Linked DNA regions of Homo sapiens: all the other regions are reported to be linked to region 1. The links are microRNA targets in miRTarBase. Many come from high-throughput screens and were not tested one by one. Region 1 holds a microRNA gene; each other region holds the end of a gene's coding sequence. Distances are between the middles of the regions.

Region 1 (5,118 bases):
TAGTAGAGACGGGGTTTCACTATGTTGGCCAGGCTAGTCTTGAACTCCTGACCTCATGATCTGCCTGCCTCGTCCTCCCAAAGTGCCGAGATTACAGGCGTGAGCCACTGCCCCTGGCCCAAGCTTTCCTTCTTTTTACAGAGTATCTTGGGCCATCTTTCTGTGTCAGTTAGTTCACAGATCTATTAGTGATGACAATATACTGGATGCACCGTAATAATTTTAACCAACCCCTCTACTGATTTATACTTAGAATTGTTTCCATCTTTTGCCTTTACAAAATGCTCCCCCAGCCTGGGCTACAAGGCAAAACCCTGTCTCTACTAAAAATACAAAAATTAGCCCAGCGTAGGGGTGCATGCCTATAGTCCCAGCTACTCGGGAGGCTGAGGTGGGAGGATCATTTGAGCATGAGAGGCAGAGGTTACAGTGAGTGGAGATCGCACCACTGCACTCCAGCCTGGGTGACAGAGTGAGACCCCATCTCAAAAACAAAAATACAAAAAAAAAAAAATACTCCCTAGTGAATATCCTTGTTCATTTCTCTTTGTGCATATGTAGAATAAATTCCTAGAAGTTAAATAGCTGGGCCAAAGGATCTGAGTATATAATTTTTGAGCAATATTAATAAACCACTTGCTCTAAAGGCTGTACCAGTCTGTCATCCTTCTAACAGTATATGTAACGGTCTCTTGCTATCAGTGTATTTTCTTCCTAAACTTTTTGGTAATCTTATAGTTGAAAAGTAAAGATTGATTTGATGTCCTTTTCTCCGGTAGGCTGAGGAAGTTGGGCCTTTTTTGTGTTTTCTGCTATTGGCCCTGTGTGTTTCCTCTTCTGATCTTGCTTTCTTATGACCTTGGTCCATTTCCCAGTTGTCTTGTTGCCTGCATAATTCTAAGCCTGAAGCCTAGGAGAGGTCTGAATCCGATGTCTCCATAACTCTGGGTTCCTTCTCCCACAGGTGGATGAAACTCAGTTTAAGAAGATCCTCGGCTACATCAACACGGGGAAGCAAGAGGGGGCGAAGCTGCTGTGTGGTGGGGGCATTGCTGCTGACCGTGGTTACTTCATCCAGCCCACTGTGTTTGGAGATGTGCAGGATGGCATGACCATCGCCAAGGAGGAGGTGAGCACTTGGGGCCAGTGCTCTGGAAACATTCTTGGCGGGAGGTGAGGTAAACAGTTCAGCCTGGCATCCTGATGCTGTCACCCATCTGCTGGCTTGGGGCCAGATCTCAAGTTATACCCAGAACCAGTGCCCATAACACGCTATTCATAGTATGTATCTGATCTTGTCCCTCCTCTTCAGCTTGTACCCTCTGTCTGGGAGATCGTCTGCATTCCTCAGCATGGCCTGCAGGCCTTGGTGTCCTGGCCCTCAGAGCCAGGAGTCTAGGAATGACATTGTCTGCTCCTTCCCATGACCTTTTTTCTTTCAGTCAGATTCTTGCTCTGTTGCCCAGGCTGGAGTGCAGTGGCATAATCATGGCTCCTTATAGCCTTGAACTCTTGGGCTCAAATGATCCTCCCACCTCAGCCTTCTGAGTAGCTGGGACTACAGGTGCTCACCACCATGCCTGGCTAATTTTAAAAAAATTTTTTAGTACAGGCTGGGTGCAGTTGCTCACGCCTGTAATCCCAACACTTTGGGAGGCCGAAGTGGGTGGATCACCTGAGGTCATGAGTTCGAGACCAGCCTGGCCAACATGGCAAAACCCTGTCTGTATTAAAAATAAGAAAAAATTAGCCCTGCGTGGTGGCGCTTGCTTGAAATCCCAGCTACTCTGGAGGCTGAGGCAGGAGAATCGCTTGAACCTGGGAGGCAGAGGTTTCAGTGAGCCGAGATCGCGCCACTGCACTCCAGCCTAGGCAACAGAGCGGGACTCTGTCTCCAGTTTTAGCCACGCCTGGCTAATTTTTGTATTTTTAGTAAAGACAGGGTTTCACCATGTTGATCAGACTAGTCTCGAACTCCTGACTTCGTGATCTGCCTGCCTCGGCCTCCCAAAGTGCTGGGATTACAGGCATGAGCCACCACGCCCGGCTTATTTTTTCTCTTCTCGTTTTGAGATGGAGTCTCACTCTGTCGCCAGGCTGGAGTGCAGTGGTGCAATCTCAGCTCACTGCAACCTCTGCCTCCCGGGTTCAAGCGATTCTCCTGCCTCAGACCCTACTAGTAGCTGGGATTACAGGCGCACACCACCACGCCCAGCTAATTTTTCTTATTTTCAGTAGAGATGGGGTTTCACCATGTTGGCCAGGCTTGTCTCCAACTCCTGACCTCAGGTGATCCACCTGCCTCAGCCTCCCAAAATGCTGGGATTACAGGTGTGAGCCATCGTGCCTGGCCAAAAATTTTTTTTTTTTTTTTGAGTAAAGACAGGGTCTCTCTGTGTTTGCCAGGCTGGACTCGAACTCCTAGACTCAAGCAGTTCTCCCACCTTGGCCTCCCAAAGTGCTGGGATTACAGGCATGAGCCACAATGCCCAGCTGACTTAAATTCTTTGACACTAAATCTACGTGTCACGTGTGAATAACATACCTGGCAGGATTGTTTAGAAATGGGATACTGTATGTAAAGCCCGGGGCGCACAGGAGGAAGTTGGCCCCTGTTAGCTCCATTCCCTCTGTGTTCTGCTGAGCTTGATGGCTGTTGTCTTCCCCTGGAACTGTTAGAGCATGGCTGGGGGCTTATCCCCCAATCTGGAATCATCTGTTCTGCTCTGAGAGAGCTCGATGGCAGGTGCCTCCGTGTTGCCGAACCCTCCTACGCTGCTCTCTCACTCCAGATCTTCGGGCCAGTGATGCAGATCCTGAAGTTCAAGACCATAGAGGAGGTTGTTGGGAGAGCCAACAATTCCACGTACGGGCTGGCCGCAGCTGTCTTCACAAAGGATTTGGACAAGGCCAATTACCTGTCCCAGGCCCTCCAGGCGGGCACTGTGTGGTAAGAGCCTCCCAGCAGCCCCTCACAACCCAACAGAGATTCCTCAAAGCCAGGGCCTACTGGAATCTGGTGGTCACCATCCTGGAATTTGGGGAGCTGGGCTCAGTTTCTCCTGGGTCAGGGTGTGATGTCGATTTGAGAGGTCCTGCTACCTCACCTCCGAAGGATCAAGCTTCTCTGTGGTGCAAAGGCCCTGCACCTGAACTTGGCAGGCAGCGGAGTGGTGGGGCTCCTCCCCAGCTGCCTCAGGGCAGGAGACCAGAGCAGAGGGACCCATGATTGTGACACTGATCCTAAAAGCTTAGCCTCTGCTTCACACTTAGCCCCCACTAGGATGGCTATATTTTTATTATTTATTTATTTTTAGTTTTATTTTTTCAGACAGAAAAAAATATTCTACCCAGGCTGAAGTGCTGTGGGGTGCGATTATAGCTCACTGCAGCCTTGAACTCCTGGGCTCAAGCAATCCTCCCACCTCTGCCTCCTGAGTAGCTGGGACCACAGGTGTGTACCACCACACCTGGACAATTAAAAAACATTTTTATTTTTTGTAGAGATGAGATCTCGCCATGTTGCCCAGGCTGGGCTATATGTATATATATTTTAAAGTATTGGTAAGGATGTGGAGAAATCGGAACCCTCCTATGTTGCTGATGGGAATGGAAAATGGCACACTCATTGTGGAAAATAATTTGGGAGCTCCTCAAAAAGTTAAACATGAAGCCCCCATATGACCCAGCAATTCCACTCCTAGGTATTTATCCAAGAGAAAGAAAAACGTGCTCCCACATAAAAACGTGTATATGAATCTTCACAGCAGCATTATTTGTAACAGCCAAAAGGTGAACACAACCCAAATGTCCGTCTGTAGATGAATGGATACAGAATGTGATCTGTCCATGCAATGAAATGTGGCTCAGCCACAGAAAGGAATGAAGTAGCTGTATGAGTCTGTTCTCACACTGCTGGTAAAGACATTGCAGAGACCGGGTAATTTATAAAGGAAAGAGGTTTAATGGACTCACACAGTTCCACGTGGCTGGGGAGGCCTCACAATCATGGTGAAAGGTGAAAAGCATGTCTCACGTGGTGGCAGACAAGAGAAGAGAACTTGTGCAGGGAAACTCCCCTTTATAAAACCATCAGATCTTGTGAGACTTACTCACTGTCACAAGAATAGCATGGGAAAGACCTGGCCCCATGATTCAATTACCTCCCACAACACGTGGGAATTGTGGGAGCTACAATTCAAGATGAGATTTGGGTGGGGACAAAGCCAAGCCATATCAGTAGCCATGCATGCAATAGCATGGATTAATCTTGAACATAACATTGAGTGAAAGAACCCAGACTGTCTGGGTGCGGTGGCTCATGCCTGTAATCCCAGCACTTTGGGAAGCCGAGGTGGGTAGGTCACTTGAGGTCAAGAGTTTGAGACCAGCCTGGCCAACATGGTGAAACCTTATCTCTACTAAAAACACAAAACTTAGCTGGCTGTGGTGGCAGGTGCCTGTAGTCCCAGCTACTCGGGAGGCTGAGGCAGGAGAATCGCTTGAACCTGGGAGGCGGAGATTGCAGTGAGTGGAGATCATGCCACTGCGCTCCAGCCTGAGCGATAGAGTGAGACTCCAAAAAAAAAAAAAAAGAACCCAGGCACAAAAGGCCACATGCTGTGTGATTCCATTTACAGTATTATAAATATCTAGAATAGGCGAATCCATAGAGATAGAAAGTATGTTAGTGGTTGCCAGGGGCTGGGGGAGGGAGGAATGGAGAGTGCCTGCCTCCTGGGCACAGGGCTTCTTTCAGTGTGATAGAAATGTTCTGCAATTAGACAGTGGTGATGGTCACACAACACTGTGAATATGCTGTCAACCAGTGATTGTACACTTTAAAATGGTGAATTTTAGGCTGGGTGCAGTGGCTCACCCCTGTAATCCCAGCACTTTGGGAGGCCAAGGTAGACGGATCACGAGATCAGGAGATGGAGACCATCTTGGCCAATGTGGTGAAACCCCGTCTCTACTAAAAATACAAAAATTAGGCCTGGGCCTGGTGGCTCACACCTGTAAGGCCGTGGTGGTTCACACCTGTAATCCCAGCACTTTGGGAGTCCGAAGTAGGTGGAACATGATGTCAGGAGTTCAAGACCAGCCTGACCAACATGG
Region 2 (5,118 bases), not on the chromosome of region 1:
TCCTGGGTTCAAGCTATTCTCCTGCCTCAGCCTCCCAAGTAACTGGGATTCCAGGCATGCACCACCACGCCCAGCTAATTTCTTGTATTTTTAGTAGAGATGGGGCTTCACCAAGTTGACCAGGCTGGTCTTGACCTCAAGTGATCCACTCGTCTTGGCCTCCCAAAGTGCTGGGACTACAGGTGTGAGCCACTGCGCCCAGCCTGTTTTCTGTTTTTGAGACAGGGTCTCACTCTGTCATCCAGGCCGAAGTACAGTAGCACAATCATGGCTCACTGCAGCCTCAACCTCCCGGGCTCAAGCGATCCTCTTGCCTCAGCCTCCCAAGTAGCTGGGACTAAAGGTGCACACCACTATGCCTAGCTAATTTTTAGATGTTTTTGTAGAGACAGGGTCTCCCTACTATGTTGCCCAGGCTGGTCTCCAACTCCTGGGATCAAGCAATCCTCCTGCCTCAGCCTCCCAAAGTGCTGGGATTACAGGCATCAGCCACTGTGCCCAACCCAAAGATATGATTCTAAGACAGGAAAAAGCATGTTTGCAAACTAGTGGAGTTGAGGATAAATGTGTATACAGACAGGTCTGGAGGTGAAGATGGAACATGAGGGAGTTCGAAAGGCCTCTGTCTCTTCAAAGCAGAGTCCAGCTCCATAGCTGAGATTGGGGCAAGGAAGCTGGAGGGAAGGAGGTGTGAGACAGTTGTTGCATTTGGGATAGGTAAGTCATTAATAACGATAATAGCAATTAACACTTAATAGCACTATGTGCCAGTGTGGTATCTAAATGTCATATATGTATATTTCCTTATGTAATCTCATAACAATCCTATGTGATAAACACTATCGTATTCCTGTTTTATGGATAAGACCACTAAGGCACAGAGCAGTAACTTGCTAATAAGTGGCAGACCAGGATTGAAACCCAGGCAGGTTGGTACCAGAGTCCATGCTCACAACCACTATACTATACTGTATGCTGCAGATGGAGAGAAATGTCTGACCTGGCAGTGTTCCTAAACCAGGCCAAAGCAGGGGCAAATAACTATCCAGGGAATTAGATATATTCAGTACTGACTGAGGCTTCTTGTAGACACTATATTCTCCCAGCACCGGCCTGAGCCTACTACTCTTCCTCTGTCTTCACCCGATCAGCCCCCCGGGGTAAGGGCGGGGACTCCCATTTCTTTAATCCCACTCCACATAGCAGGCTGAGTAGAGGCTCATCAAATAGGTAGAAACTTTATTTCCTAAATCCCTCCCTGGACCTCTTTCAGAAGGCAGTTCAAATGCACTGTAGGTAGAAGGCAGAGGAAGCCCTTATTTAGCAATGCAGAACTTGGCAGAGGCCCCACATCTGTCATTCTTCACAGCAGTCCCTTCCCACATGCTAGAGGGAAGGGGAAGCATGATAGGGAGGTCCACTTTTGTGGACTCAAACCTTGATGGGGATGTTGAGCAGTCACAACGCTTCTCAGAAAAGGCACAAGCACCCCAGACATTCAGGCCCGGAGAACAGGCTGGCTCAGCAGGTCTTCACGATCGGGTGTCTCGAGCCCTTCTTCGGGAACGAGGGCCACAGCTGGAGCTGGGCATGGAACCCAGGCCAGGGGGTGCTCCTGGGGGTTGGTAACCACACTCATTGGGGTCCAGGGGGTCCCGGCTGAGCAGCACCCACACTGCAGGCACATGGCGGCGCACTGTGAGGGGGTCTAGCCCTGTGTCAGGTGAGGCTGGGACCCAGCTGTCCTCAGTCTGAAGGAAACGTAGCTTGGTGAGCTGGTGCAGGCCTGGGACCCGCCGCTTGACAATCTCAGCGCAGCTGACAGCCTTTCCTGCAGCCCTGCCAGAACCTGAGAACACTACATGCCGAGCACTGCCGCCCTCCAACCGACCCAGAGCCAACCCCAGCAGGTTGCGAATTTTGCTGCCATCTCGGACCCGCATCTCAAGGGTATCAGGAGGTAGCTGGGGCATTGGGGAAGGCGCTGGGAGCTCTACAGAGCCAGCTTTCCGGTAGTGCTCCATCCTGCTTGCTGTCTTGTCTGTGACTCTCGCTGCCCACTGCAGGGAAGCATCAGGTAAGTGCTAAGCAATGTGCCCCAAGTCACTGTCCACCATCCCCTATCTCCATCCAGGATATGGCCCTGCTCCCCGTTCCAGACTTCCCAGAAACAGGATCATGTCCCCTTGTCCTTAGCATCTCGTGACAAGGTCCATGCCTGCCGCAGTCTGGGAAAGGGCTGTACCCCATACACCCCGTTCCTCTACAAGGGCCATAACACCCCCACCTCCAATCCTGGAGTCCAAGAGGCAGGATCACATTCCCCAAACACTGAGCTCTTTGGGAAAGTGCCAGGCCCCCTCATCCTAAACTCTCCAGGACTGGGGCTTAGCCCCCCTTATCCTGGGCTCCTTGGAACAGGGCCTGGAACCCTCACCCCAGACTAATACCAATAGAGAGCGCTCCTCACTTGGGGCTCTACAAGGACAGGGACAAGGCCCTTCGCCCCAGGCCCCCCGGGAAACAGCCAAGAACCCTTATCCAGTGCTGCCCCCAAACAGAACGGATCCCCTCTCCCAGAGATTACCAAGGTCAATCTATATCAACCCAGGTCACTCAGAAACTCGGGGGCAGAGGCTCGACTCGGAGGGCTGCTCAGGACATTCCAAGACAGCCTTGGCCGTTTCCATAGCCACGGTCTCTTCCAGGGTCTTGCCGGCCGCTGCAGCCAAGCCACAGGCGTCCCCCAACCCTACGAGCGCCCCTCTGCCCGCCCGGTTCCGGCTCTCACCGAAGCCGCCTCACGCACGATCCGGAGCCAAGATGGCGCGCGGGCCCGGAGCGCACTAAGGCCGCGGGGCCGCGCACGCCCCGAGGGGGCGGGGCGTGAGGGGCGGGGCGTGAGGGACGGGCCCCGAGGCATCTCCGCCGCGGAAACAACCCGCTGGCCAGAGCGCCCCGGACCAGTCCCAGCGGGGATGGGAACACGAGCGCAGCCTCCGCTGTTACGCCCCGGAGGGAGGCAGGACAGTTCCCTGCGGTAGAAAGGAGCGGCCGTCGGGGAAGTCCTGCGTCTGAAGGAGGGGGATCTGGCCCTTAGAAGATGGGAGGGCTGGCGTTAGCTGTTGAGCAAACGGGGAGCTGTGGGTTTCACCGTGGGTGCGAACAAAGGCTTCAGTTTGTAGTGGCTGCTGTTGCATGGGCGAGAGCCTTAGTTACCGACTTCTGAGCTTCGACCTCATCCTGTGGGCGCTGGCGGACCACGGGGGTTTTCCGGGTTTTCCAGGGGCCAGTCGAACCAGATCTTGTGCAGGGAGCCGAGGAGGGAGTGGTGGGGAAATCGGGCCACAGCCCCTGACGACACCTGCCGCGGAGTCTGGGGGCTGAGGGGGCGGGGGTGCCCACGGAGCCTAGTATGGTGCCTGGCGTATGACCGGCGCTCAATATTTGTTAAATGATTTGTTACATTAATGAACCAGAGAAATCGCGGTGGGAATGGAAAAAAGATTAAGTTGGGAGATACTAGTAGGTTCAGTGACGAGTTGGCCACTGTTTGGACGGAGAAGTAGGAAATTCCGATCTAGGGTGACTCCCAGGTTTCAGATCGGTTTGGACACGCTGAATTTGAGGTGCCGGAGAGGTCGCAAAGGCGGGGCGGCCAATGGGCCGTTGGAAAAAGGGTCTGGAGCCAGAGCACTCCCTGAGACCACAAGGGGGCAGCAAACATTTGGTGGACTACGGTGCCAATCTGTTTCTCAACATGCTTGCCCCAGCGCCCCTACTTCCCAACTTCCCCTCCCCAGGACCAAAACTTCCTGCATCCAAACCTCTTAGGCTGCCCTTCTCGGCTCGTGGCAGCAGGTAGGCTCCCAAGAGAGAAATTTAAAGGCCTTTGCACATGCTGCTCCCTTGGCTCTGAAAGTCCCTGGATATCACTTACCAGGTCCCTTCAGTCCCTTTTTTCTTCTGTGTCCACCTGATAGGACTGCCCTTTTCCTTTACTGTCTATCCTGCTAGCCCGTGCAGGGCAGGGATTAGCCCTATCTACTCCCATCATCTGACATTTGGAGGTCTCTTATTGGTAAATGTGGGATAAATGGATACATAAAGGAATATCCTATTCACATAATCAAATGAGAGCCTTCATTTTGAGAGCTCTACACCTGCCAGAAAGCCAGACCAGGATGAGTTTAGTTCCCAGTCAAACGATTAGGCAGGCTGACACCTCTGCCCCCTACCACCTCCATCCTAGACCAAGAAGCCAGCACACTCCTCCAGTCATCTCTATGGTTTATTGTCACTGAAATAAGAACACTGATTGGGGGGAGGGTGGGTGTTGCAAATTGCAAACCTCAGGTAACCTGACCTCCAACTTTAGAGCCCAGAGTACAGAGAGGTGGGCCTTGAAGCCAATAAATACAAAGCTTCCTCTGCCTTGTAACAAAGGCAGGTTGGCATAGGGCCCTGGAGCCTGACTGCCCAGGCCCACTTTGGGATGGGGAGCAGCTATCACTCCTCTGCTGGCTTCACTTGCGTGGCGGCCTCTAGCTGGCAAAGTAGCTCATCCCACTGCACGAATTGCTTGGAGAGAAGCATTGTCTGGTTGTAGGTCAAGGTGAGAATAGGAATCTGAGTGAGGAAGTTCATGGAAAGTGGGGAACAGGCAAACATAGGTGGGTAGGATAGGATGAGAGAGAGCTAGAGGTGGAACAAAAGGACAGGGCTTAGGGACAGCACCCATTAGGGTCCTAGTTGAGCAGAAAGGATACAGTCTTGTTGTATTCCTCCAGGAGAGCCTTGGACTCCTCAGTGATTTCCACACACTGGTCCTGTAGGGCCAAAGTGTAGCACAGAAAGGAACTGGGCAAAGCCCACATCTTCCACTAAACTTCCTGCCTCATCACGGACTCCCACTCCCCATGGAGCCTAAAAAAGATGACGCTTAACCCCAAAGCCAAAGGAGCAAATGGCTATGGGAGCACTTTCAGGCTCCAGGATGGGTGCCCTAACAGCAGTCCAAAGACGGATGGAAAAGGGAGTGGCCATACATTAAGTAAACATTCCCCCTAGTGTATGTCTCTTCTTCTGTCCTTATTTCTGAACTCTCTTTGAACTTTA
Region 3 (5,118 bases), 100 Mb from region 1:
GTGTTTTTAGTAGAGATGAGGTTTTTCCATGTGAGCCAGGCTGCTCTAGAACTCCTGGGCACAAGTGATCCGTCCACCTTGGCCTCTCAAAATGCTGGGATTACAGGCGTGAGCCACTGCCCCTGGCCTGACTGTAGGATTTATCAGGCTTTACCCTGTCTAAGTTTATGGGTTTCTGCTCCTACCAGGAAGGTCCTACTCTTTCCCTGCTTTTCTCAGTGTTCCTACCTTTCAATAATAAAAAAACAATTGGCCGGGCGCGGTGGCTCACGCCTGTAATCCCAGCACTTTGGGAGGCCGAGGTGGGCGGATCAGTTGAGCTCAGGTGTTCAAGACCAGCCTGGCCAACATGGTGAAACCCCGTCTCTACAATACTACAAAAATAGCCAGGCATGACAGTGTGTGCCTGTACTCCCAGCTACTGGGGAGGCTGAGGCGGGAGAATTACTTGATCCCTGAAGACTAAGGTTGCAGTGAGCCGAGATCACACCATTGCACTGCAGCCTGGGCAACTGAGAAAGACTCCATCTCAAATAAATAAATAGTTAATTAATTAAAAAAACAATTGTAATGTGAAAGGCTTGGTCGCTCGAATCTGAAGTCCAAGCTAGTCAGGAGGCTGAAGCCGGACAGTTGCTTGAGCCCAGGAGAATAGCCCGGGCAATACAGTGATATCCTGTTCCCCTCCTCCGATAAAAAACAATTATAATCCTTGGGAAGACAAATTTTAGTATAATATACTTTTTTTGTTTTTTGAGATAGGGACTCTGTCACTCAGGCTGGAGTGCAGTGGTGCGATCTTGGCTCATTGCAGACTCAATCGCCTGGACTCAGGTGATTCTCCCACCTCAACCTCCCAAGTAGCTGGGACTACAGGCATGTGCCACCATGCCCGGCTTGTTTTCTTTTGTTTTTTGAGATGGACTCTCCCTCTGTCGCCCAGGCTGGAGTGCAGTGGCACGATCTCGGCTCACTGCAAGCTCCGCCTCCCGGGTTCACTCCATTCTCCTGCCTCAGCCTCCTGAGTAGCTGGGACTACAGGCGCCCGCCGCATGCCCCACTAATTTTTTTTTTGTATTTTTAGTAGAGACGGGGTTTCACCGTGTTAGCCAGGATGGTCTCGATCTCCTGACCTTGTGATCCGCCCGCCTCAGCCTCCCAAATTGCTGGGATTACAGGTGTGAGCCACTGCGCCCGGCCGAAGGATTTTAAGTAGGATAGTGATATACAGTCCGACTTCTGTATCTGCAGATGCAAAGAACTACAGATGGAAAATATTTGGGAAAAAAGACAATACAACTATAAAAAACAATACAGTTTAACAATTATTTACATTGTATTAGGTATTAAAAGTAATCTAGAGATGATTTAAAGTGCATGAGATGATGTGCATAGATTATTTGCATTTAAATCATCACAATAATAATTATATGCATTTTTTTTTGAGACCAAGTCTTGCTCTGTCACCAGGCTGGAGTGCAGTGGCGTGATCTCAGCTCACTGCAAACTCCGCCTCCCAGGTTCAAAGGATTCTCCTGCCTCAGCCTCCTGAGTAACTGGGACTACAGGTGCATGCCACCACACCCAGCTAAGTTTTGTATTTTTAGTAGAGATGGGGTTTCACCATGTTGGCCAAGATGGTCTGGATCTCTTGACCTCGTGATCTGCCCGTCTTGGCCTCGCAAAGTTCTGGGATTACAGGCATAAGCCACTGCACCCAGACTATATGCATTTTATATAAGGGACTTGAGTATCCCTGAATTTTGTTATCTAAGAAGGGGTCTGGGAACCAGTCCCCTGGGGATGGCAAGGGACTGCTGTATGTCACATGGATGCCCTGACAGCAGTGTGGGATGAATTGTAGAGAGCAAAGACTGGAGGAGGAAGGAAGTGGAAAGGAACACGAGAAAAACAGAAAAAAAAAAAAACTAGTTCTCACTGGGGAAAGAAAGCAACATAATTCATCAAGTATGAAAAGCAAGGCACGAAGGCTTTTTCACTTAATCTGCATAATAAACACATATTGCTATTCTCTTTTTTTTTTTGAGACAAAGTCTCACTCTCGTCCCCCAGGCTGGAGTGCAATGGCGCAATCTTGGCTCACTGCAACCTCTGCCTCCTGGGTTCAAGCGATTCTCCTGCCTCAGCCTCCCAAGTAGCTGGGATTATAGGCACCTGCCACCACGCCAGGCTAATTTTTGTATTTTTAGTACAGACAGGGTTTCACCATATTGGCCAGGTGGTCCCAAACTCCCGATCTCAGGTGATCCGCCCTCCTTTGCCTCCCAAAGTGCTGGGATTACAGACATGAGCCACCGGGCCCGGCCAAATATTGCTATTCTCTTATGTATGAGACTCTAAGAACAGAGTCTCATACAAGTCTCAAGGTCACAACAGGTACTGAGTAGCCAACTCAGGATTTAAAGCTGATTTTGTTGTTACAGGAACGGCAAAAAATAAATAAATAATGTGCTTGTGATGTCATGTACATTCAGAATTTTTATTTTAAAACAAAGAATCAAACAAACAATAATGGAAAATCCATATGGAAATATTCACAATCTTCTCAGTGAGAAATAGGAAAACAACTTCCCTGCCTTACTGCCAAACTGAGGAGCCAGAAGTTGACGTGAAGTTGGAAGGCCACCTTTCCAGCTAAACCCCACTCCATAGCTACGTGCATTTTTATTCAAAGGCTCCAGGAGCAGAGGGAACAGTGAGAACTGAGAACCAAAATACTGTCACTGGCAAGGGTTTGGCTAAAGGGTCTGAGATGTGTAAGCACCAAGAAGGGAAAGGGAGACTGAGCAACATATGAAAAAGGGGCTGTAGGAACAAACACAGAGAAAATAAGTCAACAATAACATACTTCCACCCAGAGCAAAGTGACAGTGCACATACATTCATCCTCTCAAGTGTGGGCTGCACTGCACATTGACTCATACTGTCTAAACCTGGTTTATTGGAAAGATTCAAGTCCCCTGAGGGCATTCGGCATAGGACCACAGTGACATGGTAACAGACATACGCAAGCGTGCCGTGAGCCTAAAGCAACAACACACTTTAGATAATAATCGCTCAGAAAAAAATCCTCTCCCAGAGCTGAGGTTACAAATTCCAAGTTTGCTGTAAACATTCTTTGGGGAATTCCTTTAAAGGTATGAGTTAAAATAAAACAGAAAATCAACACCTAAAATCTCCTAAAGAACAAAGTGGAGAAATAATGAATCTCTACCAAGAACCAATTATTTTAGGTTTCTCATTTGGATGGCTCTCCCACTAGATAGGTGGCGGGATTACTTCAAAAGTAATGAGACTACTACAAGGAGTTATTTCGTCCAGTGAGGGGAACAGGCTTTCTAGAAATCACTTTCTCTTCCCTGGACTCCATCCAAAATTAGAACCCATCAACCGCCATTAACTACAATGCCCATATTAGTTAATAATCCTAGATTTCAAGTACTACTACATGTAAACTATTATCTTAAAGATAAAGTTCCAAAGGAAATGAGTAGCTTTATTAAATAGGCATACAACTTTTCTGAGAAATCAAAGAGTTTCCATCTGAAGGACAGAAATTGTTAAGAGGTAATGTACAGACCTCAGGCACCACATCATTTACCCTCCAATAATGAACAACATTTCTCCCTGAATTCTTATTGCACCTTAACCTCTCCAGCATCAAATCTTTTACTCTATAACCTCTCTTTAAACACCTCCCTCTAATCTCAATTTCCTTCTGTTTTTATTATTTGGCAAAATTACACTTAAAAAATAAATATTTATGTAATTAAACCAGAGGATAAGATAAATAAAACTCAAGTTAATTTGCCGCGTAGAGCTGTATGGAAGTGAGGAAGGTGCTCTTACATAAACACCCTCCGGCTTCCACACTCATATGTATCTGCTTCCTGGTAAGTCTGAGGTTGGGGCAACTGCACCTTACTTTTCCTCTCCTATATCCTCTAGTGCGGCAATATCAGAACCCAAGGGAGGAAAAGCTGGCAAAGTTGTCATGTGCCAAGCGGCCAATCCCTCCTGAAATGAAGGTAGGTTCACTCGGTCTCTCCTAAGCAGAAGAGGATGTCCAGGAAATAAAATTTAAAAAGCCATTGAAGATCCAACAAACTGCAGCCTTGGGGTGCTCATGGAGTGCGTGGGATGAGAAAGAAATCAAGTAGCAGCATTCAGAAGCAGTCCTGGGTTCATCCTGATAAAGTCTCTCCCTTGTTGAGGGAGAGGTGGCTTTCCCATGCCGGGAGGGAGGTGGAAGGAGGCATGACTTAGACATTGGTGGTGGTCTCCTTAGCAGGCTCGATGCTGTTCATCCCCATGACGCCGTCCTTCCCAGATCTATCTGCACCGTGTGCCTGCCCTTCAAAGGCCCGTGTGATATCCTCAAAAGTCCTGCCACGGGTCTCAGGGACTTTGAAGAAGGTAAAGGCCAAGAAGGTAATGAGGAAGCCGGTGAAGATAATAAAAACGTAGGCTCCTAAATAGTACTAGTGAAAGGACAGAAAAAAGGAAGGTTGATATAAAAATCTGGTCATTGACAAATACAATTTCCTTCACATTCATATTTCCAATAGGCTTCAAGCTATAACCCTTCCATATTTAATGAAAACATAAAGGTTTCTTCAGAGATTTACTTATGATTCTATTGCTAACTTACTATATTTCTCTGTATTTTTCTTTCTGTCATTTTTTTTCATTAAAGTTAGATGCTTCCAAATGTCTACTGAGTATTTTTGGACTTTTGAGTATTATTATTATTATTATTATTTGGAGATGGAGTCTCACTCTGTCACCCAGGCTGGAGCGCAATGGCAGGATCTCGGCTCACTGCAACCTCCTCCTCTTGGGTTCAAGCGATTCTCCTGTCTCAGCCTCCTGAGTAGCTGGGACTACAGGTGCCCACCAGCACGCCTGGCTAATTTTTGTATTTTTAGCAGAGATGGGGTTTCACCATATTGGCCAGGCTGGTCTCAAACTCCTGACCTTGTAATCTGCCTGCCTTGGCCTCCCAAAGTGCTGGGATTACAGGCGTGAGCCACTGCACCTGGCCTTGAGTATTATTTTTAAAATCTGTGTTGCTGAGCTGGGTGTGGTGGCTCATGC
Region 4 (5,118 bases), not on the chromosome of region 1:
GCAATCCCAGCACTTTGGGAGGCCGAGGTGGGTGGATCACTCAAGGTCAGGAGTTGGAGACCAGCCTGAACAACATGGCAAAACCTCGTCTCTAATATTAAAAATACAAGGCCAGTCACAGTGGCTCACGTCTGTAATCCCAGCACTTTGGGAGGCCAAGGCAGGCGGATCACGAGGTCAGGGTATCGAGACCATCCTGACTGACATGGTGAAACCCCATCTGTACTAAAAATACAAAAAAAAAATTAGCTGGGCGTGGTGGCACGCACGTGTAGTCTCAGCTATTCAGGAGGCTGAGGCAGGAGAATCACTTGAACTCGGGAGGCGGAGGTTGCAGTGAGCCAAGATCATGCCACTGCACTCCAGCCTGGGTGAGAGCGAGACTCCATCTCAAATAAATAAATAAATAAATAATAAATAAAAATACAAAAAATTACTTGGGCATGGTGGCAGGCACCTGTAATCCCAGCTACTCGGGAGGCTGAGGCAGGAGAACTGCTTGAACCCGGGAGGTGGAGGTTGCACTGAGCCAAGACCACACAATTGCACTCCAGGTTGGGCGACAAAGCAAGACTCTGTCTAAAAAAAAAAAAAGAAAAAAGCAATTTACTGAGCACTCGCTCTGCTAGGTACTTGGGTTTGAACCCAGGGATTCAACAGGGAATGTGCCTATTGAGCTTAGTAAATTTGGGAAATCAAACTGAATTAAATGTCATCTAGTTTCTCAGTGCCTCTTTGAGATAGACATTCTAGGGATGTACAAAAAAATGACATCTGAACTTAGGATGTAACAAATAACTATTTAATGTGAACATGCTACATACTTGAATTTATCCAGTACATTTACCTACATATCAAATTATCAAACGTCCAAAGGATTACAATCTATTTTTCTTCCCTAATGCCTTTCTTCCACATGAGCACTAAATGTCATGGTAAAGTGCTAATGATTCTCAAAATGCAAAACTTGGAAAAAAATTGTATAACTTTTTTTTTAGGAAAAGCACATAAGATAAACTTGAACAAAGTAATGAAATTATCTCCAGATTTTCTTTTTCAAGGCTGAGTGTGTGATTCACACCTGTAATCCCAGCACTTTGGGAGGCTGAGGTGGGAGGATTGCCTGAGGCCAGGAGTTCAAGACCAGCCTGGGCAACACAGGGCGAACCCCCGCCCCACCGACCTCTATGAATAATAAAAAATTAGCTGAGCATGGTGGTACATGCTTATAGTCCCAGCTACTCAGCAGCCAAGGTGAGAGGCTAACTTGAGCCCAGGAGGTAGAGGCTGCAGTAAGCCATGATTGTGCCACTGCACTCCAGCCTGGGGGACACGACAACACCCTGTCTCAAAAATAATAAACAAAATGTTAAAATTAAATTTAAAAACAGGACTGGGCAGGGTGACTTATGCCTGTAATCCCACCACCTTGGGAGGCTGAGGCAGGAGGATCACTTAAGCTCAGGAATTTAAGACCAGCCTAGGCAACATAGTGAGACTACATCTCTACTAAAAAATTTTTTTAAAAATTAGCTGGGTGTGATGCTGGACGACCGTTGTAGCCCCAGTTACTTAGGAGGCTGAGGTATTCGGGAGAATCACTTGAGCTCTGAGGTTGAGGCTGCAGTGAGCCATGACTGTGCCATTGCACTCTAGCCTAGGTGACAGAGGGAGACCCTGTCTCAATAAAAACGTAAGAAAAAAGAAAAGAAATCAGGACTTGGAATCCTAATTTGAAAATGAAACAGAACACAGAGTAAGCTACCTAAAACAGTAATAGGCTTACAGAAGGCTTTTTAGGAATTCTTGTGTGTTCTACTCATACTTGTATAAAATTTTAAGCATCTCCAAATGTTATACAGCTCTAAATAAAGTGGAGAAAAGGGGTAGCCAGGTAATTCAAATAATAGAATTTCTTTCTTCCCAAATTACTTACTGAAGCCATGAAGCAAAACTTACCTACACAAAAATCCAGAGATCTGTGATTAGTAAACATTTAAACCGTTGACAAATTCTTTCCTTGATATTCAACGGCATCCTTCCAAGAATGTGGTTAACCAATGAACTCAATCAAGTTCAGTTGTGTCTATGACTGTGATGTCTAAATAACTGAAAAGTAAAATATCCAAAATAGCTGCTTTTCTTATGCATTACACATACCCCAACATTATGCACACAGGTGCACCAACTTAGTCCATTTGTGCTACTGCAACAAAATACCTATAATTTATAAAGAACAGAAATTTGTATTTCTCACAGTCTGTTGGCTGGGAAGCCCAAGATCAAGGTGCTCGCAGGTTCCACATCAGGCGGAGGCCCCTTCCTCACAGATGACACCATCTAGGTGTCCTCCTGTGGCAGAACAACAGAACAGCAAAATGGGCCTAAGCTAGTTGCTTCCAGACCTTTTTATAAAAGGCAACTAATTCATTCATGAAGACAGAGCGCTCATGCCTTAAATCACTTCCCCAAAAGCCCAACCTCTTAATACCACCATAATGGGGACGAACACATGAATTTGGGGTGGTGGGACACATATATTCAAACTATAGCATGCACTTTTCAACATCTTAAAACAGATTCCCGTGGTCTCAAGAGGCCAGACTAGACAAAAATTAGGGCATCTCTTTGGTTACTCTCTAAAACGTTAAACTCTATACTGAGAGTGAGTGGAATACAAAAGTATGACATTTAATTAGACATTCTGCTGGCTGACACAAAACTTGCACTTCCTTTTTCATTAGCCAATAGGTACAGCTATAACTGTAGACAGAAATTATAATTAGAAATAATGAGAGCAATTTCTTGGATTACTCCACTTTTAAATTATATTTTATTCAGACTTATCCTTTGAAATTACTCATGATTAGCCTATCCTCTTCATGTGATAATTTAGGAAACCTCTCTATTGCTGTGGCATCTTTATGGAAAAAAAAAATTGTGTACATGCATACATGCAAGAAAGTTTCCTACAAACATCACAATTTAAAAACCACTCTATCCAAAAAGGCATTGTAAAAGTATAATTTTGCATTTTATTCATTCATTCCATCAGCTGGGAATTGCTCTATTGTACAAATACAGTTTTGTACAAAAAAATCACAAAATGTTACAAAATAAAAAAAGTACAAACTGCATTACTTAATAAATATGACTAAAAGTAGTTAAAGTGGCAATGAGATTGATTTTAAGTTGGAAACATTGTTTGACCCAGCAAACCATACAAGCTCTGTTTACAGACATTTCTACATCAATACAGGGCAATCCTATTTTGCCTTTTGAAAGAATGTAAAGAAATATTAAGACAGTGTTCTCCTGCTATAACTGCCAAGGTTGGCTCCAGACATTTATGCCATTAGTTTATAAATCTCTTAGCTGGATTCAAGAAGTTATATAAAGCAGGAGGCTTATCTTGTCACAGAGTTTTATACCATGTTAACATTCTCTTACAACAACGTGACAAATGTAAATAAAAACAACTGAGAGCACCAGACAATCTACTCTACACATCAACCAGGGTACAGAATAATCATTCTGCCATCAGCAAATATCAGACTTTCATTCAAGTAAGACCTGCTACTATCCCTTAAAAGAGGAAAAACAAAACAAAAACCAAAAAAAAAACACAAAAAAACACCTTCCCACAACCTTCCATTAAGTAATTTTCTTTAAAAGATTCGCCATTTCTAGAAAAATAATGACTTCCAAAACAACAGCTCTGTTTCATCAAAATGGAATGGGCCAAACATCTGGTAACAAGAATGCATCAATATCCATTTGAAATAATTATCTAAGAATTGTGAAATTCAAATTTCAACAACATAAAATAACTACCAAATCACAAACTCTGTTCAAAATAATACATTTCATATAAAGCACTTCTCTGGATTTACGCCTGAAAGCTGTTTGTCAAAATGGAACACGTCATAGATGAAGGTACACCAGTTTTTAAAAATGTTGTGCAAAAATACATTTTTATAGAAAATAGACTACCAGGAATGAACAAATTTACACTGTGAGAAATCAGCTTGCAAATTAAGTAATGCTCACTTTATACAGCAAATTATAAATAGCAGTAAAATCACCCAAAGCTATCATGAAACATCATTTAGGTGCCCAGCAACCTCCAGCTCTGAGAAAACATTCAAAAAGATGATTAAGGCATTACACCTACAGTAAAATCTACTAGCAAGTTTGAAAGTGCTATTACCCTGATTAAAGTTCATGTGATTCTCCAAACACAAGTTATATATGCAATTATTCCCAGGGTGTAAGGTTTTGAGACATTTCAAGAGCATGCATTTTGTTCAATATACATTTTAGACAAGGATATGGCCATAGATTTGGCAAGTTCTTCGTCGCGTTTCCTTTGCACTTGAGTTTGTTTGCACCAGTTGTCGTACTCTGGGTTAGGATAGGAGTGATCAAATACAGCATCATAGTGTCCGTTACTGAGCCAACTGAGCCAAATACTAGGCCTCAGGGAATCCTCTGGGCCCAAATAATGAATCATGGTAGACACCGTGGGACTCTCCAGCCTCCCTCCAGTAGTTAAATGGATATTCACATTCAGCATCTGCCCCATGGCCAGCAACTCCGGGTACCCGGCCCATGCCCCGTCTTGGGCAGCAGCGATGATAAACTCCCCCACGTCGCCCTCAATCAGGGGGCTGAAGTGGTCGAGATGGTCGGCGATGTAGTGCACCGTCTGCTCCCTCAACTCCCGGTGCAGGCTCTGGTCCCCATACACCGTCTTGCTGACAGCTCGGTAGAGGCAGTTGCCGTCTGGAATGATGTGGAATCGGTACTTATTCCTCTGCCGCAGATACTTGTCCTGCTTCTCCACCTCGGCCAGGTATAGGGCCAGCTTCTCGTCTCTGGGATCCGACCTGGAGACGATCACCGGCTCCGCCGCACTACTCGGGGCGGCCTCGATGCTCCCGGCGGGGGGTGCCTCGGCCTCTGGGTCGGGCCTCCGCGCCGCGTCCCCACCGGGCGCGTCGCAGCGATCGCCGCCCCTCTCCCAGCCCCTGGGGCCCCTCTCCGCCAAGTGCTCTTCGCCCCACGGACCGGGGCCGGGATCGGGGCTCCCCGGGGTCGCCGCGGGGCCTCGGTGCT
Region 5 (5,118 bases), not on the chromosome of region 1:
CTACTAAAAATACAAAAAATTAGTTGGGCGTGGTGGTGGGCGCCTATAATCCCAGCTACTCAGGAGGCTAAGTCAGGAGAATTGCTTGAACCCAGGAGGCAGAGGTTGCAGTGAGCCGAGATTGAGCCACTGCACTCCAGCCTGGGCAACAGAGTGAGACTCCATCTCAACAAATGATAAATAAATAAATAAATAAATAAATGGGCTGGGTGCTGTGGCTCACAGGCCGGGCGTGGTGGCTCACGCCTGTCTGTAATCCTAGGACTTCGGGAGGCCGAGGCGGGTGGGTTGCCTGAGCTCAGGAGTTCAAGCCTAGTCTGGGCAACACGGTGAAACCCCTTCTCTACTAAAACACAAAAAAATTAACTGTGTGTGTCGTCCAGCCTGAGCAACAGAGTGAGACTCCATCTCAAAAAAAAAAAAAAAAAAAAAAAAAGCCAGGTGTGGTTGTGCACGCCTGTAGTCCCTGCTACTCCGGAGACTGAGGTGGGAGGATCACCTGAACCTGTGAGGTCAAGGTTGCCTTGAGCTGAAATTGTGCCACTGCACTCCAGCCTGGGCAACAAAGTGAGACCCTGTCTCGATAAAAAAAAAAGAAAAAAAAAAAAAGAAATGCTCATTACACTCAGGGCCTGATTCAGAAACCTGATTTAAGTGACTTTAAGAATTATAATAATAGTAACTTTCATTCAAGTCGCTCTTGTTTGCTTTCTGTTGAACATCAGTTACAGAAACTTCGTGGCAAATTGAGATCAATGAGGCCAAAAGGAAACTGATGGAGAATATTCTGCTCTACAAAGAGGAAAAAGTGGACAGCATTGAGCTCTTTGGCCCCTGATGACCGGAACACAGCTGAGGACCCTTGTCCTCAGTTGGAAAGATGAGCATCAGATCAAGAAAAAGGTCTGAGGCAGAATCCAAGATCTGCCAGGAAACACACAACAAAACATCTGCTGTCCTGGGTGGGAGGGAAACTTCATTTCACTGGAATGAGTTGGGAGAGAAAGGCCCTCAGCTTTTAGAGACACAAAAATCCATGAAGTCTCTTCCTTTCTGGGCTTTGTTAGTCAGAGCAGGGGATCAGAGGAGACTGAAGCAGAAACCCTGCACACGGGCCCAGGATGTGGCTGATTTTGTGGTTCCGGGGAGTATGTGATGATAATCACCCCCAGCAGATTCCATTACCTCAGCAGCTCTTGTTCCCCCGCCACTGGCAGTTCTGCAATGCCATAGCATTTTCCAGAGCTAAGATCTCTGGGTTGTATTTGCTGACAGCCTGCAAGCTTGCATGCTCTGAAAGATTTTTTTTAGTTTTTAATTTTTTTGTAGAGATGGGGTCTCGCTTTGTTGGCGCAATCCTCCCACCTCAGACTCCCAAAGTGCTGGAATTACAGTTGGGAGCCACTGTGCCTGGCCTGGAAGACTTTCAACTTGTGTCTCAGTGCAGTTCTTGACTCACCTCTCTGGGCCTCAGGTTCTACAAATGCCAGACACCTAGCGAAGAGCTCTGCAGGCTTTCCACTGCCTGTATTGGAAATCTTGCAATTCACATAATTATTCAGTCACTGCCTGGTACCTTTATCTTCCCATCCCACTAATGTTAGTGTTTTTTAATGGAGCTTTTATTCTGAGAATATGTGTTTGTCTGTTTGTTTGTTTTTTGAGACAGAGTCTCACTTTGTCACCCAGGCTGGAGTGCAGTGGCACGATCTCAGCTCACTGCAAGCTCTGCCTCTCAGGTTCAAGTGATTCTCCTGCCTCAGCCTCCTGAGTAGATGGGACTGTAGGCACCTGCCACTATGCCTGGCTAATTTTTGTGTTTTTAGTAGAGACAGGGTTTCACCATATTGGCCAGGCTGGTCTCGAACTACTGACCTCGTGATCTGCCCGCCTTGGCCTATCAAAGTGTTGGGATTACAGGCTTGAGCCACCGCACCCGGCCGAGAATATGTGTTGTTATTTATGACTGGATTATGAAGAATCAGGAGAATGCATTTCATGTCTGATTCTGCTGCTAATTAAGTCAATCATTTAATTTTTGGGACCTCAGTTTCTTTGTAAGTAAAATAACACCTGCTTGTTCTTCATCCCTGGGCTGTTGGGAGGAACAGATGAGACAGTGGCTATAGAAGCACTTGGAAAATGCACTTGTCCTGTTTTGTAAAATAAAAAGGTATTAAATGTGTATTTCTGCCATGTACCTAATGATTATTCAGTGCGTATATATCTGAAAAGTCATGTTGCAAATCTTTCTGTGAAACAGATGCTATTTTAAATTCACTGGGAGAAATATCCTATTTAAAGTAATCTATAGTAATTTCTTTTTATATAATAAAAATATATTTGTAAAGTCGACAGACAACTTGTAATTAGTTTTGTGTCTGGAAGAATTTGTTTAGAGAAGGCACTCTGTATCCTTGAGATGGGGTAGCAAAGAGCTAGGATCCTGGCTCTTACTGTTGACTGTTAATAGCTGCATGATCTTGGGCCCAGTTAGGGAGTTACTCTGAGGCTCTGTTTCCTCATCTGTACAATGGGAAAAAGAAAACGTACGCATCTTGTAGGGTTGTTGTTGGATGGGTCCTGCCTGGTGAAACATTTGGCAGCTCCCCAGTAAGGACAGCTTTGGCTTGATGTGTGATGTAGCTGAGCTGGGTCCCAGTCCAGGTGGACAGTGATCTATACAGACAGCCCTGTCTTCAGCTCTGGTGTCTGTGAGGATTCAAGGTGAATGTGCATTTTGTGCCCCAAATGGGACCTGGCCTGTTGCGAACACTTTACAATTATAAGCAGAGTGTTTCCAGGGCTGTTTGCGCAATAGAGGGCTGACACCAATAGGTTTGTGGTTATCCAGACATACTTACATTTCTAGACTAGGATTTCATATATTTTTGGAGAAGTCAGTAAATCCCCTTGGGACTTGGATGAAAGCTCTAGACCTTTGCTACATACAGACATACATACATATGCGTTCTGAGTCCATGAATTCCAGACCTTCATGGGCACCATGATGTCTTTTCATGGATCCCCCGTAGGGAAGCCCTGAATTATTTTTTTTTAGGTTAATAGAGGATTTAAAAATCTAAACAGTACAAAGGTTCCATGGTGAGAAGGCAGGCTTTTTCTCAATGGGATCTTAGTCTCCAGTTTCTTGTTCCCAAAGGCAACCACTGTCACTAGGTTGGAGTATCCTTCCAGAGGTGATGGAAAACAGAGGTGATGCTCAACTTAGTCATCAGGGAAATGCAAATCAAGACCTCTATGAGATGCCACTTCACATTCACTAGGATAGCTATAATCAAAAAGACAAAAACAAGTGTTGGCCATGATGTGGAGAAATTGGAGCCCACACACACTGTTGGTGGGAATTGAAAATGGTGAGCACTTTGGAAAACAGTTTGGCACTTCCTCAAAAGGTAAGAATTTCCATATGACCTAGCAATTCTACCCCTAGGTATCTACCCAAGAGAAATGAAAACATGTCCACACAAAAGCCTGCACACCAATGTTTATAACAGCCAAAAAATAGGAACAACCTAAATATCCATCAACTGATAAGTGGATACATGAAATGCGGTCTATTCATGCAATGGAATATTCAGCCATAGAAAAGAATTAAGTACTTGTGAAAAGTAAAGTAGAGGTTCCTCTTCAAAGACTTTCCTCCCCATCTAATTAGGAATAAATAGTAACTTCTCTTAGAAGCAAAATTTATTCAAAGACCTAACATTCTTAAATACCTGCTAGCCATAATAAATCAATGTACTTTATGTTCTTAACTCCCACAATTTAGCCTAAATATTTGCCCTGGCACGGTTATACTGGTGCAAGCAAGCATTAAGTCATAGCCTGTTCCTCTTCCTTATTTGAAAGTGTTTTTACCTTTCTCAGCATTCCACAAGTTACTTCCTCCTTCCTTTGTTCTCCTCTGCTTTTGCCTCTGAAAAAATTCTAAGTTGTTAGCCAATCAAGACAAATACAGAATGTGAAGTCCCGTTTCAGCCAATGGAAACTGGACCCAGAGGTAGGGTGGATACGTCAGGTTATAAATGACCCTGTCTCCTTTGTTGGGTGTACTCGTGGCAAAACTGCTGGCGAGTGTACCCTTTCTGCAGAAAGTGTAAAAATGGCCTTGCTGAGAAAATTATTTATGTTCAAGTGCTATTTCTTTATGGCACTGGGGAACAAGCATTTCAAACATACTGACACGTTACAACATGGATGAACCTTGAGATCATGGTAAGAAAAAGCAAGTCACATATTGTATGATTCCATTTTTAATTTTTTCAGAATAGGCAAATCTATCAAGACAAACTAGATTACAGTCTTGCTGAAATTACAGGAGTGAGCCACCAGGCCAGCTGGTCATACACCTGTTTTCTTTCTTCTTTTTTGTTTTGAGACAGAGTCTCCCTCTGTTGCCTAGGCTGGAGTGCAATGGCACGATATTGGCTCATTGCAACCTCTGCCTTCCAGATTCAAGCGATTCTACTGCCTCAGCCTCCTGAATAGCTGGGATTACAGGCACATGCCACCATGCCCTACTAATTTTTGTATTTCTTTTTAGTAGAGATGGGGTTTCACCATATTGTTGAGGCTGGTCTTGAACTCCTGACCTTGTGATCTGCCCACCTTGGCCTCCCAAATTGCTGGGATTACAGGCGTGAGCCACCATGCCTGCTGCTCATACACTTTAAATGAGTGAACTTTATGGTATATAAATTATATCTTAAAGCTGTTAGAAAGGAACACACAAAGTGGTTACCCTCAGGCATTTGAAAAAAGAAAGCCACATTTACCTTTGTATGCCACTCCTCTCTATTTAGCCACACATGTGTTTTGTTAATGCTTTTCTAGGTCCTTTGTTTTTTCATGTCTTTCTTGGCTATTGCTCCTCAACAGTAAGTTTAGATCACTTCATTCTTTTTGCCTTACATTCCATTGTATGGATATTCCTTAATGTATATAACCAGCTGATAGAGATTGAGGTTTTGTTTTCATTCTAGCTACTACAGACAATGCCACCTTCCAAGGAGATTGTATCAATTAACACGTTCATCAGGGATGTATGGGAGTGCATTTCCTCACATCCTCAGCCACAAGGTATATTATCCTGCT
Region 6 (5,000 bases), not on the chromosome of region 1:
GACCTGACTTCCATTGACCCTGTGAGTTCCTAACAGTAGGAATCCAGTCAGGGGAGCCTGAAGCCACTTTGTTCAGCCCCCAACCTCTCCACTCCTACATGTTATCAAGGAAGTAATGAGGCAGCATGGTACAGTCCAAAGCACAAGGCTAGGGGGCCAGACAGATAGATGTAGGTTCAAATCCTGGGTTTGCCTCTTACTGACTGTGACTTTGAGCAAGCTACCTAACCTCTCAAAACTGCAGCCTCCCTGTCGGAAAAATGGGGATAATATGCCAGTATCATAAAGGTTTTGTGAGGATTGAATGAAAATACATGAAAACCACCGGGCACAGCGGCTCACGCCTGTAATCCCAGCACTTTGGGAGGCCGAGGTGGGTGGATCACAAGGTCAAGAGAGATCAAGACCATCCTGGCCAACATGGTGAAACCCCGCCTCTACTAAAAATACAAAAAATTAGCTGGGCGTGGTGGCGGGCGCCTGTAGTCCCAGCTACTCGGGAGGCTGAGGCAGGAGAATCACTTGAACCCAGGAGGCAGAGGTTGCAGTGAGCCGAGATTGCGCCACTGTACTCCAGCCTGGCAACAGAGTGAGACTCCGTCTCAAAAAAAAAAAAAAAGAAAAGAAAATACATGAAAACCAACAAACAACTGGTACATCAGAGGCTGAAGTAAAATTCTAACTGTCACTGCGCACCCACTGTGACCTGTGCTGGGTTCTCCTGTGGAAGAGGTAGTCAATAAAGTACAGCACTTACTTTCTGTGAACTCAGATTCAAGTTTTAAGAAATAAAGTTTGGCCTTTTCTAGTCCAAGATCCCTAAGAGGGGAAAGGAGCTGGAGCATGACTTGGACACTATTCCCCTGGTGTGGTGATCTCAATTTAACCAGTATTTTAAAAGCTTCTTATGTGCCTAGCATGATGCTCTGTCTTCCTGTTGCTTGCTGTGATAGAATCGTAGATCACCAAAGCTGGAAAGGTCTTCAGTGAAGGGGCAACTAAGGCTGAGAGAGGCAAGTCAGTGGCAGTGCTGGTACCCAGGCCCACACTCCTGACCCTCAGATCACAGCTCCTTTTCAGTGTGATGCCCTGTATGTCTTAAAACATAAATAAAAGTAGGTTACAGTCATACAGTATGGCTGTGGAGGGTTGGAGTGGAGGGCAGGTTGTTCCCCACATTCTTCCTTCTCTGCCCACGAGTCAGCCCTGAGCAGAGATTCAGGGTCCTGTCCTGTCTAGCCTGGCTTTTGGTTTCCCTCCCCAACAGGTCCTAACAACTTTCTTCAACCTGAGTGTCCTCTATCTTCACGGCAACAGCATCCAGCGCCTGGGGGAGGTGAATAAGCTGGCTGTCCTTCCTCGGCTCCGTAGCCTGACACTCCATGGGAACCCCATGGAGGAAGAGAAAGGGTATAGGTAAGTGCCCTGCCCCTGGAGGTAGCGTCTAGCTGGGCTCCCCTAAAGGAAAGGAGGAGGAGAAACAAGAAATCTACGACCATTCTTCTGCCATGCTTGGACCTGGGAAGGGAGTAACAGACCTCTAAGCATTCCTTGCTCTCAGTCAGGATAAACCTAATCTTTCCCAAACTATGCTCAAGTCCCTCCATTCCTTGCAGTCAGGGAAGACAACAGCAACTAGTGGAGGGGGAAGGGGATTCTGGTGGGGGTGCTGGCCCCCAGCCTAAGTCTTCCCCACAGGCAATATGTGCTGTGCACCCTGTCCCGTATCACCACGTTCGACTTCAGTGGGGTCACCAAAGCAGACCGCACCACAGCTGAAGTCTGGAAACGCATGAACATCAAGCCCAAGAAGGCCTGGACCAAGCAGAATACACTTTGAGGCTCCCACGACCCTAGTAGTCCTAAAGGCCTAAGCATAGACAGCATGGTTTGACAATAAATAATTTGAGCTGTTGAGCAGATGAGAAGTCACTTACACCTTGTAGAGATGTTCTCTAACTCAGGCAACTGCAAGTAGCTCTAGCCTTTTCTTTTCTTTTTTTTTTTTTTGAGACGGAGTCTCACTCTGTCACACAGGCTGGAGTGCAGTGGCACGATCTTGGCTCACTGCAACCTCAGCCTCCCAGGTTCAAGAGATTCTCCTGCCTCAGCCTCCCCAGTAGCTGTGATTAAAGGCGCCTGCCACCATGACTGGCTAATTTTGTTGTTGTTGTTGTTGTTTTGAGACGGTTTCACTCGTCACCCCAGCTGGAGTGCAGTGGTGCGATCTCAGCTCACTGCAACCTCCGCCTGCTGGGTTCAAGCGATTCTCCTGCCTCAGCCTCCTGAGTAGCTGGGATTACAGGCGCCTGCTACCACATCCAGCTAATTTTTTTTTTTGAGACGGAGTCTCGCTCTGTCACCCAGGCTGGAGTGCAGTGGCACGATCTCGGCTCACTGCAAACTCCGCCTTCCAGGTTCACGCCATTCTCCTGCCTCAGCCTCCCAAGTAGCTGGGACTATAGGCACCTACTACCACGCCTGGCTAATTTTTTGTATTTTTAGTAGAGACGGGGTTTCACCATGTTAGCCAGGATGGTCTCCATCTCCTGACCTTGTGATCCACCCACCTCGGCTTCCCCCAGCTAATTTTTTATATTTTAGTAGAGACAAGGTTTCGCCATGTTGGCCAGGCTGGTCTTGAACTCCTGACCTCAGGTGATCCGTCTGCTTTGGCCTCCCAAAGTGCTGGGATTAGAAGCGTGAGCCACCACGCCCAGCCTTTTTTTGTATTTTTAGTAGAGATGGGGTTTCGCCATGTTGGCCAGGCTGGTCTCAAACTCCTGACCTCAGGTGATCTGCCCACCTCAGCCTCCCAAAGTGCTAGGATTACAGGATAAGCCACTGCACCTGGCCAGCTCTAGTCTTATTTTGCTGAAAAAGGGAGGCAATTGAGGGAAAGGCCTGCTGGCCTGGGACACTGGAGACGTGGGTTTACCACACAGCCTTGGGAAATTTATCTAACTCTCTGGGCCCCTTTGTACTTTTCAGCTTAGAGATTTGGGGGTTAAAGTAGATCAGTAATTTCCAAACTCTTCACAGAGTACCAGGGTCTGTAGAGATGCCTCACAGGCCTCCATGACAGGCCAAGAAGATGGCCTATGATCTCTGAAACCAGCCCCCACTTCAATCAGATCAAAGTAATTCCATTCTGTTTTATATGCTGGGATTCTGCTTAAGATTTCATTTGATAAAAAGAATCTTCTGCTTAAAAACATTTGCTTGCTGACTCCATATTAGGTATTCCCAGAAGAGCCTGGTCTGCTTTCTCTCTCCACCCCCCAACCCGCCATGTCTCCCTTCACCCCCAGGGGCTGTTGGTAATTCCATTGAGTCTGAGGCAGGGCCCCCAAGAATCAAAGCTGCCTCAGATTCAGGTCTGTTCAGCTTTGACAGTGTTCCCATCATCACTGGACAAGGGACAAGAACAGTCTCATCCAGTCTGAGGTTAGCCCAAGCCAGGTCTCAGCTAAGAGCTGACACCCTAAACCCTTGTCTCTTGGGTTCATCTTCAATATCCCTGGAAGATGTCCCCTTCCCCCCATCTTACTCTCATAGACCTAAGTAATCAAAAGTAGAATGGGTAGAACAGAGGGGCCAGAACCAGCACATGGATGAATATACTTCCTTTATCGAGGGTGACAAACCAAAACAAAAAAAGACCAAACATGTAAAAACCCAGGGTTCTAGAAATACAAACTCAATTCATTCAAATTCAAGCTCATCCAGACCCTGGTCACAAACCCTAGTGAGGTGCATGTGAGCACCAAGTCAGGGAGAGGGGGCAGGAGTGACTCTGAGGCCAACAGAGAGGGTGGGAAGGGGATCTCCCTAGGTCCCCTGGTGATCACCCCCCACCCAAACTGGTATCTCCACATTCTCAATGACTATGAAGACATACCAGGCTCTGTCCTTTTGGCCCCCACCCCATCCCTGGCCAGAGCTTCAAAGGCCAGTCCCAAAAGGTTCTACCCTCACTTGCTCAGGCTTCTAGCCTTCCTCTTCTCCTCCTTCTTCACATTTTTCTCTGTGATTAGTAGCAGGTTAGGGTACTGTATAAGCCGCAGTGAGGCTGGGGGCCAAGGGGGTGGGGTAGAGATGGGATGAAGAGAGGAGAAGAGCTGTCCAAGGACCCCTCTCTTCATGGGATCCCAAACTGTACAACCAGCTCCTCTTTTGCGTCCACACGGATCTGAGAAAGTGCACTGTAGGCATAAGCAGCTATCCTGGAGACCTGAGACAGAGAGGGGCCGGGGAGGAGAGGAACAGAGACAGGTGAGGAGGGCAATCAGGAAAAATGGGGAGGGGAGATTAGATGGTGATGGAGAAGGAGGGAATGAAGGGGAACAGGAAGGCAAAGAGAAAGACAGGGATGGGAGAGACAGAAGGAAAAGAACAAAGGGGAGTGAAACAATAAAGGTTGCAGGAAGGAGATAGGAAAGACATAAAAAGTTAAGAGAACGAGGTGGGAGGGAGCTGGGGCCTACAAGGCTACCAGGCTCCCTAACTCCACCTTCCCTACCTCCTCTGAGGCAGAGTGGGTGAACCCTCTGCCATACCCTGGGCAGTGTGAGAAGGGTGGGCAGGGGCAGGTGAGGGGTGTCTCACCTGCTGCAAATCAGAGAACGGGATGGGCTCACTGGCCAGCACTTGGTGGGGCTGGCTGGTAAGAGACGGCAGCGGTGGCAGCTTCTTCCAATGGGTCAGGCTGCTGCTCAGCACAGCCAAGCGGGTGCTGACCAAGAGAGAGGGGGTGGGGGTAGGCAGTTAAGCCACAGTCTGCCCTGCCCAGCCCAGGTAAGCCTCATCCCCTCAGGCCAGAGAAGCAGGGTGTCGAGGAGGGGTATCTGGGAGGGAAGGTCTCAGCTCATCACAGACTCAATCTAGGCCCATCTCCCTTGGCCTCAGCGCCCTCAAGAGTGTCACAGGGTAAACAGGGCTGACATGAATAACTACTGAAGCACCCAAGTGATCTGTGGTCAGTCTCCAGGGCTGCACCA

What was found. Region 1 holds the annotated microRNA hsa-miR-6761-5p (UCUGAGAGAGCUCGAUGGCAG, at 2,726-2,746, shown strand). A microRNA usually pairs through its seed, bases 2 to 8, with sites in the 3' UTR of a target mRNA and lowers its output. Matches are read on the target gene's strand: a 7mer-m8 pairs with bases 2 to 8, a 7mer-A1 pairs with bases 2 to 7 and ends in A, and an 8mer does both.
Region 2: the mRNA of DCTN3 is a reported target of hsa-miR-6761-5p. The part of its 3' UTR that is shown has no 7-base or 8-base seed match.
Region 3: the mRNA of SLC2A14 is a reported target of hsa-miR-6761-5p. Seed matches in the 3' UTR shown: 7mer-A1 at 3,541-3,547 and 7mer-A1 at 2,768-2,774.
Region 4: the mRNA of OTUD1 is a reported target of hsa-miR-6761-5p. Seed matches in the 3' UTR shown: 7mer-A1 at 4,132-4,138 and 7mer-m8 at 3,480-3,486.
Region 5: miRTarBase lists IRAK2 as a target of hsa-miR-6761-5p. Seed matches in the 3' UTR shown: 7mer-m8 at 1,733-1,739.
Region 6: miRTarBase lists LAMTOR1 as a target of hsa-miR-6761-5p. The part of its 3' UTR that is shown has no 7-base or 8-base seed match.

The regions. Positions count from the first base shown.
Region 1 is chr12:111,797,114-111,802,231 of GRCh38, forward strand. It overlaps MIR6761 (microRNA 6761), which reads left to right and starts at 2,721; the gene lies at 2,721-2,792. It overlaps ALDH2 (aldehyde dehydrogenase 2 family member), which reads left to right. Exons shown (of 13, transcript NM_000690.4): 10 at 965-1,129; 11 at 2,793-2,950.
Region 2 is chr9:34,609,273-34,614,390 of GRCh38, forward strand. It overlaps DCTN3 (dynactin subunit 3), which reads right to left. Exons shown (of 7, transcript NM_007234.5): 6 at 4,770-4,829; 7 at 4,274-4,599. The coding sequence ends at 4,510. RPP25L (ribonuclease P/MRP subunit p25 like) reads right to left here and starts at 2,825. Exons shown (of 2, transcript NM_148178.3): 1 at 2,792-2,825; 2 at 1,223-2,060. The coding sequence starts at 2,024. The coding sequence ends at 1,533. RefSeq lists enhancers at 1,743-2,296, 3,400-3,449, 3,577-3,626 and a silencer at 2,760-2,999.
Region 3 is chr12:7,810,033-7,815,150 of GRCh38, forward strand. SLC2A14 (solute carrier family 2 member 14) reads right to left here. Exons shown (of 11, transcript NM_001286234.2): 11 at 2,482-4,502. The coding sequence ends at 4,284. Among named protein-coding and RNA genes, the nearest start is that of NANOG, 23 kb to the left of the region's middle.
Region 4 is chr10:23,440,074-23,445,191 of GRCh38, reverse strand. OTUD1 (OTU deubiquitinase 1) reads right to left here. Exons shown (of 1, transcript NM_001145373.3): 1 at 2,815-5,118. The coding sequence ends at 4,289. Among named protein-coding and RNA genes, the nearest start is that of OTUD1, 3.6 kb to the right of the region's middle. RefSeq lists a silencer at 4,899-5,118.
Region 5 is chr3:10,241,391-10,246,508 of GRCh38, forward strand. It overlaps IRAK2 (interleukin 1 receptor associated kinase 2), which reads left to right. Exons shown (of 13, transcript NM_001570.4): 13 at 726-2,355. The coding sequence ends at 838. Among named protein-coding and RNA genes, the nearest start is that of TATDN2, 4.5 kb to the right of the region's middle. RefSeq lists a silencer at 1,166-1,235.
Region 6 is chr11:72,093,681-72,098,680 of GRCh38, forward strand. LAMTOR1 (late endosomal/lysosomal adaptor, MAPK and MTOR activator 1) reads right to left here. Exons shown (of 5, transcript NM_017907.3): 4 at 4,609-4,735; 5 at 3,612-4,234. The coding sequence ends at 4,142. It overlaps LRTOMT (leucine rich transmembrane and O-methyltransferase domain containing), which reads left to right. Exons shown (of 9, transcript NM_001145310.4): 4 at 1-21; 5 at 1,268-1,416. The coding sequence starts at 1,383. It overlaps LRRC51 (leucine rich repeat containing 51), which reads left to right. Exons shown (of 6, transcript NM_145309.6): 4 at 1-21; 5 at 1,268-1,416; 6 at 1,699-3,215. The coding sequence ends at 1,840. Among named protein-coding and RNA genes, the nearest start is that of LAMTOR1, 7.1 kb to the right of the region's middle.